2 linked regions of the Homo sapiens genome follow. The protein of the gene in region 1 purifies or fractionates together with the protein of each later gene. This does not show direct contact. Each region holds a gene or a part of one and is shown on either strand. Other genes may lie near its edges.

Region 1 (3,565 bases):
AATCTAAACTTCTTAACATGGCACATAAAAGCCTTTGAACTTTGGAACAATATACACTTTTCTACTCTCATGTATGACTAACTACTTCCCAAACATCTTTTGTTAAGATGTTTTTAACAAATCTTATTGTGAATGTTTAATTTTTAAAACTCTTCATAATTGGGATATAAACGATTTTCATAAGAAATGGGCATTCATATTTTACAGGAACACATATACATTCTAACTCTATTAAAGAAAGAAGAAATATAAGTACCACTGGGCATAAAATAGAACACATTTAAAAATAAAAGTGTCACAGTAACCATCTCATTAAAAACAAAAACGAAAAAAAAAAAACTTGAAATCTCCCAGAGGGAGAATATGTTGACTATTTTAATGAAGATAATTTTTGTAACAAAACATTTTTCTTTAAACAGTAACAAACCAAACAGATCCTCTACAGGCTATTAAAAGTTGTATGATTTGTTATTTTCCATAATAAAAGATAGGAGGAAATGGTAATTTCGGTAGGAAGTAGGCCTTAGGAATTACTAACCACCACAATGCATTTGGATAAGAATGAAAACAACTTTATCCATAGTTTGCAGTAATTAGGGTAAATCTTACCCACTCGTATAAGCAATTTTCCATTTTCCATTTACTTCACGGAACCACCATAGTATTCTGTCCTCTTAAGAAATGTTTGTGAAACGCCAAGGGTCAAGCACAGTGCTTGGTTCACAGAAAGGGGTTCAATATTTTTGAATGAACAAATTACTGAGCGAATGAACACAATGGGCTCTCAAACCCTCCCCTACTCCCTCTTAGGTATGCTATTATGTCCATTATGTGCTTTGGCACCTCTCCATGTCAATCATGATGTATTTCCTTTCCTTTATCCCTAGAAAGGCCCTGGTTATTCTTTCTTCCTTTAGAGATCTAGAATCTATAATTACCCTGATCTTGCTTGGAACTCCTCATTAAACAATAAAGGACACCCTTTTCCCTTGGGCCTTCCTCATGTCTCTAACATGCCTCTCCTGAAGCAGAGATTGAATCTAGTTGAACACGTTGTAAGATAAAGCTCCTGAAAGCAGTTTCTGCCTCCGGGTTATTTGAATTTCTCACCCCCATCCCTACTTAACAAGTAATTTTGTTCCAAAACATTTATCATCAGTGTCACATCAACAAATTTACACATCAATCTACCGCAGCTAACTTCGTAACAATGGGAGAAACATTCAGAATAATACTGAGCATCCTACCAAGGGTCTGAAAAATTGAATTCAAATACTCTGTGTGTAAAATGCCTAGACTCTGTCATTCCAGCACATCTATGATCTGATCTAGCAAGTATATCGTTAGACTACAAATTACCTTTTTCCTATGACGTGTAAAACTCCATTAAAAATGAATTCTTCCTAATAAAGTTTTTTATGGCGTCTAAAATTGCTGTGAATGTTACACCTTTTACAATCACCTTTTAGCCAGAAAGCCATTATTTGTAGAATCCTCCTGTATTTCAGTTATTTGTCACCTATTTAGGCTGGGCCTAATAGCAAAACTGTCCCCCGTTACTGAATTCAGAGAATTATTCGGGCACACGATTTATTTCCTATCTTGATTAGACTCCTGAGCCCGTGCCCCAGCCTCTCGCTAATCTCCCTGGACCAGACAACTCCATTAGAATCTGGCACCCACGTTTGTTCTGCCTAACACTGCAGGAAGGACAGAGACTTCAAAGCACGTGTTTGTTTTTTTGTTTTGTTTTTGGCTACCAAGAAGCCAAATTTCTGTATCCTCTACCATTCAAAACCCCAATTCAACAAATTTACACGGGGGTTTTTCCTCCACGTTAAGCAGTTAGTCGGGTACTAGAGATACACATATAAAACACAGACTCTGCCCTCAAACAACCCAATGAGCAGAAAATTCTCTTAGGCACCAAAACGCTGTAATAGATTCAAGTGTGTAGAGGAGAAGTTTGGTAGAGTGGATATGACGCTTTCTTTCTTTGTAGTACAGAAAAGATAAATCTGTAGAAAAGGGAGAAAGACAACTGGGTAGAAAATTTATTTCAAATATCTAACCCAAATCTTCAACAGATTTTCCATTTTAAATATTCCAAAAAGTGTACCATTGTATATTATACTAAATGCAGGTTCATTTATCACTTAAAAATTTTTAAGCTAAAAAATCTCAAACAATTAACATTTGGGAAGAAAAACAGGACTGATACACAAAGTAGTCAAAATATTTCAGCTTTCTAAACTGTATGCACTGGACTAACTGTTCAATATTAGAATATCTCTACATTTGAATTTGGATAGCCCACAGTGATAAATACTGGACTGAAAAATCTGACATCGAACATATGCAAAACTAATGGCTACTATGAAAAAAGATAGAATGGGGAGAGAAAACTTGAATGTGCCAAAACATTTAAACGCTCTTTAAAATATCCTGAGATGCTAAATTAAGGACAAAACGATTAGAGTTCCAAGAATACAAATTTTCATCTCTTTCAAGATTCAACTGAATATTGAATCTCATTGAGATTATGAAATATTCTCTAAGCATGTGCTTAACTTCTATTTGGCTTTCCGCATTTCACCACAGTGAACAGCCCATTCTTTTTCCTTGTTTACACCAAATGCTCGTTTTGAACACAACTCAAAATGGAATTCCAGGCCCAAAAGTCACCACCCCTACTTTCACCCCCACAGGCAGCTACTTAACAGATAAGGAATTCAAGTGCAGGACCTGAAGGTCTTATTTCCATGCAAATTTCACAATCCCCGTTACTTGCCCAGATACAACAATTAAAGCTTAAAAGGTGGCGGGAGTGGGGGACTTGAGGACTGGTCTGAGGAGAAAGTGAATCTCCCAAGGGTTCCTAAATGGTTTTGCTTCCAGTATAAAAACTGCGAGCTACCAGTAGAATTTAACAACAGCTCAACCTTGCATTTGGAACAGTTACTATATAGTTCACTTTCTTTTTTCATGGGGGCGGGGTATGGTGTCTTACCTACTCTTAAATTTGAACGTATTAACAGGTTCCCCTCCGCGCACACTGACATATTTCTTATCCCCCATAATGAATTCAGCCATATGGCATTCTTTCCCATCGAAGGCCATCGGGAATGGCTTTAGGAAGCTGATTTTCAAGCTTTAAGCGGCAGCAGGTGCCGGCAGCGCGGGGACCGATCGATGGAGAGAAGGCGGGCAAGACGCCGGGAAGCGCATTCCTCCTCAACCGAGTGCCACAACCGCCCTCCCGAAGTGCCCCGGGGCTTCGAGCATCACCTCGCGGTAATCCGGGAGGGTGGAGGGATGCGGCTGGACCCGGGCGTTGCGTGCTCCACACAGCGCCCAGCCCGTGCCAGCCCCGCGCCCACCTCTCCACGACGCTCGTGCCGGGATCAGCGCGAAGCCCCTTCCAGTCCCCGAAGCCCTCGCCCGCGCCCGTTCTCCCCCAGCTCGCCCCCTCCAGCCCGCTGCGCCTTGCCGCAGCATCTCCGGGCACTCTGAGGCTGCCGCCGGGACAGGGTCGGAGCGCCGCAGAACCCACCGAAACTTCCCA
Region 2 (2,875 bases), on another chromosome or scaffold:
GGGGATCACGAGACCAGGAGATCGAGACTATCCTGGCTAACACAGATAAACCCCATCTCTACTAAAAACACAAAAATTAGCCGGGCGTGGCGGCGTGTGCCTGTAGTCCCAGCTGCTGGGGAGGCTGAGGCAGGAGAATGGCGTGAACCCAGGCGGCGGAGCTTGCAGTGAGCTGAGATTGTCCCACTGCCCTCCAGCCTGGGCAACAGAGCGAGACTCCATCTACAAAAAAAAAAAAAAAATTTACCAGCCAGGTATGGTGGCTCATGCCCATAATCCCAGCACTTTGGGAGGCCGAGGTGGGCGGATCACCTGAGGTCAGGAGTTCGAGACCAGCCTGGACAACATGGTGAAACCCCGTCTCTACTAAAAATACAAAAATTAGCTGGGCGTGGTGGCAGGTGCCTGTAGTCCCAGCTTCTGGGGAGGCTGAGGCAGGAGAATCACTTGAACCCAGGAGGCGGAGGTTGCAGTGAGCCTAGACTGCACCATTGCACTCCAGTCTGGGGGACAAGAGCGAGACTTCCTCTTAAAAAAAAGAAAAAAAAATTCCTTACTTCTCCTGGACTTTCAAAAAAGTTTTTATTGTAGTAAAACACAAAATTTACCATCGTGACCATTTAAGGGTATAGTTCAGTGGCATTAAGTACATTCAACTTTTTGAGCAACCGCCATCACCATTCATCATCCATCTCCGTTTTTTTGTTTTGAGATGGAGTCTCACTCTGTCGCCCAGGTTGGAGTGCAGTGGCATGATCTTGGCTCACTGCAACCTCTTCCTCCCCAGTTCAAGCAATTCTCCTGCCTCAGCCACCCAAGTATCTGGGATTACAGGCGTGCACCACCACGCCCGGCCAATTTTTTTTTGTATTTTTAGTAGAGATGGGGTTTCACCACATTGGCCAAGCTGGTCTCAAACTCCTGGCCTCAAGTGAGCCGCCCGCCTCAGCCTCCCAAAGTGTTGGGATAACAGGCGTGAGCCACCATGCCAGGCCATCGTCTCCTGAACTTTTTCATCTGCCCAAACTGAAACTCTGTACCCATTAAACAATAACTCCTCACTGCCCCCTCCTCCAGTCCCTGGCAAATACCATTCTACTCCTAGAGTACTTTCAGACTCAGTTTCTTCTTTCACTTAATAAAAGACAGGGTCCACTGCTGACTAATGGGATTGTTTCTATATTTGGAGGCCTTCTTGCAGACATGTGATTTGAGTTTATTGCAGAGAATGGTAATAGGAAATGGGATTGTACAAAGAAAAGAGATGGAGAGAAAACTGGATGAGGGTTTCGCACTGGGTGTCCCACCCACAGGCCTCAGCAGCCCTGCCACGGATCTGCCCGATTCTTTCGCATCAAGAAGTTGATCTTGCGAGCCATTTCCATGTTGTAGATCCGCCGGCACCTTTCATAGCTTTCCCTCTGTCGCCGGCAGCATGGCTTCTCATAATACCGCCGATGCTTAATGTCCTCAATGAGCCCATCCATAGTGAGGATTCTGTATAAAGGCAAGCAATGAGGTTAGACATTTGGGATCATCATTATTCTTTTCCAGTTTCATAAATAGAAGTCGATTGACCAAACAATTGGTATTTATAAAAAATACAGTGGGAAATGGTGGCAATAGAGCATTAACTGCCTACTTACAAAGGCCTCAATAAGAATCTGTGGGCCGGGTGCAGTGGCTCATGCCTGTAATCCCACCACCCTGGGAGCCCAAGGTGAGCAGATTGAGCCCAGGAGTTTGAGACCAGCCTAGGCAACATGGCAAAACCCTGTTTCTACAAAAAATAAAAATAATTAGCCAGGCTTCGTAATATGTGTCTGTAGTGCTAGCGACTCACGAGGCTGAGGTGGGAGCATCACTTGAGCCCAGGGGAGACTGAGGCTGCAGTGTGCTGTGTTTGCACCAGTGTACTCCAGCCTGGGTGACAGAATAAGACCCTGTCTCAAAAAAGAAAAAAAATATTGTTCAGCATGGGCAACACGGCAAAACCCCGTCTCTGCAAATAATACAAACATTAACCAGGCATGGTGGTACATGCCTGTAGTCCCCTCTACTCAGGAGGCTGAGGTGGGAGGATCAATTGAACCTGGGAGTTCATGGCTGCAGTGAGCTGAGATCCTACCACTGCATTCCAGCCTGGACAACAGAGTGACACCTTGACTCAAAGGAAAAAAAAAAAAAAAAAAAAAAGGACTGGGCACAGTGACTCATGCCTGTAATCCTAGCACTTCGGGAAGCCGAGGCAGGTGGATCACCTGAGGTCGGGAGTTCGAGACCAGCCTGACCAATATGGTGAAACCCCGTCTCTACTAAAAATACAAAAATTAGCTGGGCATGATGGCGGGCGCCTATAGTCCCTCCCAGCTACTCAGGAGGCAGGCAGGAGAAGTGTTTGAACCTAGGAGGTGGAGGTTGCAGTGAGCTGAGATTGCACCACTGCACTCCAGCCTGGGCAACAGAGTGAGACTCTTGTCTCAAAAAAAAAAAATTGGGGAAATAAAAAAGCAATTAATTACATGGCCCTTGCTCTTGGAGAGTTTATAGTCAAAGTTATGTTCTCAAATCTACTCTACCACAACACACCTGAGGGATATGATACAGTACCTGAAGAACATGTCTCCCTACAGCAATGATTCTCAACTAATGGGGCATTTCAGAGACCTCAACTGGGGAGAGCCATTTTCAGTAAGAACAGAATCACTAGGGGTGATTCTTAAGGTGATTCTCTTACTTAAAGTTCCATCCTGTCAGGCTGGTGGCTCACACCTGTAATTCCAGCACTGTGGGAGGCCGAGGTGGGCGGATCACCTGAGGTCAGGAGTTTGAGACCAGCCTGACCAACATGGAGAAACCCTGTCTCTACTAAAAA

The links. The genes of interacting proteins can lie anywhere in the genome.
Region 2: the proteins of USP44 (region 1) and MRPS21 purify together in Homo sapiens (affinity purification with mass spectrometry; one large-scale study listed by BioGRID and IntAct). This does not show direct contact.

What each region holds. Positions count from the first base shown.
Region 1 is NC_000012.12:95,544,973-95,548,537, forward strand, and holds part of USP44 (ubiquitin carboxyl-terminal hydrolase 44), read right to left. Parts: exon of another isoform or gene 3,554-3,565; intron 3,267-3,553; exon of another isoform or gene 3,011-3,266; intron 1-3,010.
Region 2 is NC_000001.11:150,306,670-150,309,544, reverse strand, and holds the end of MRPS21 (small ribosomal subunit protein bS21m), read right to left. Parts: intron 1,498-2,875; coding exon 1,317-1,497; 3' UTR 566-1,316; downstream 1-565.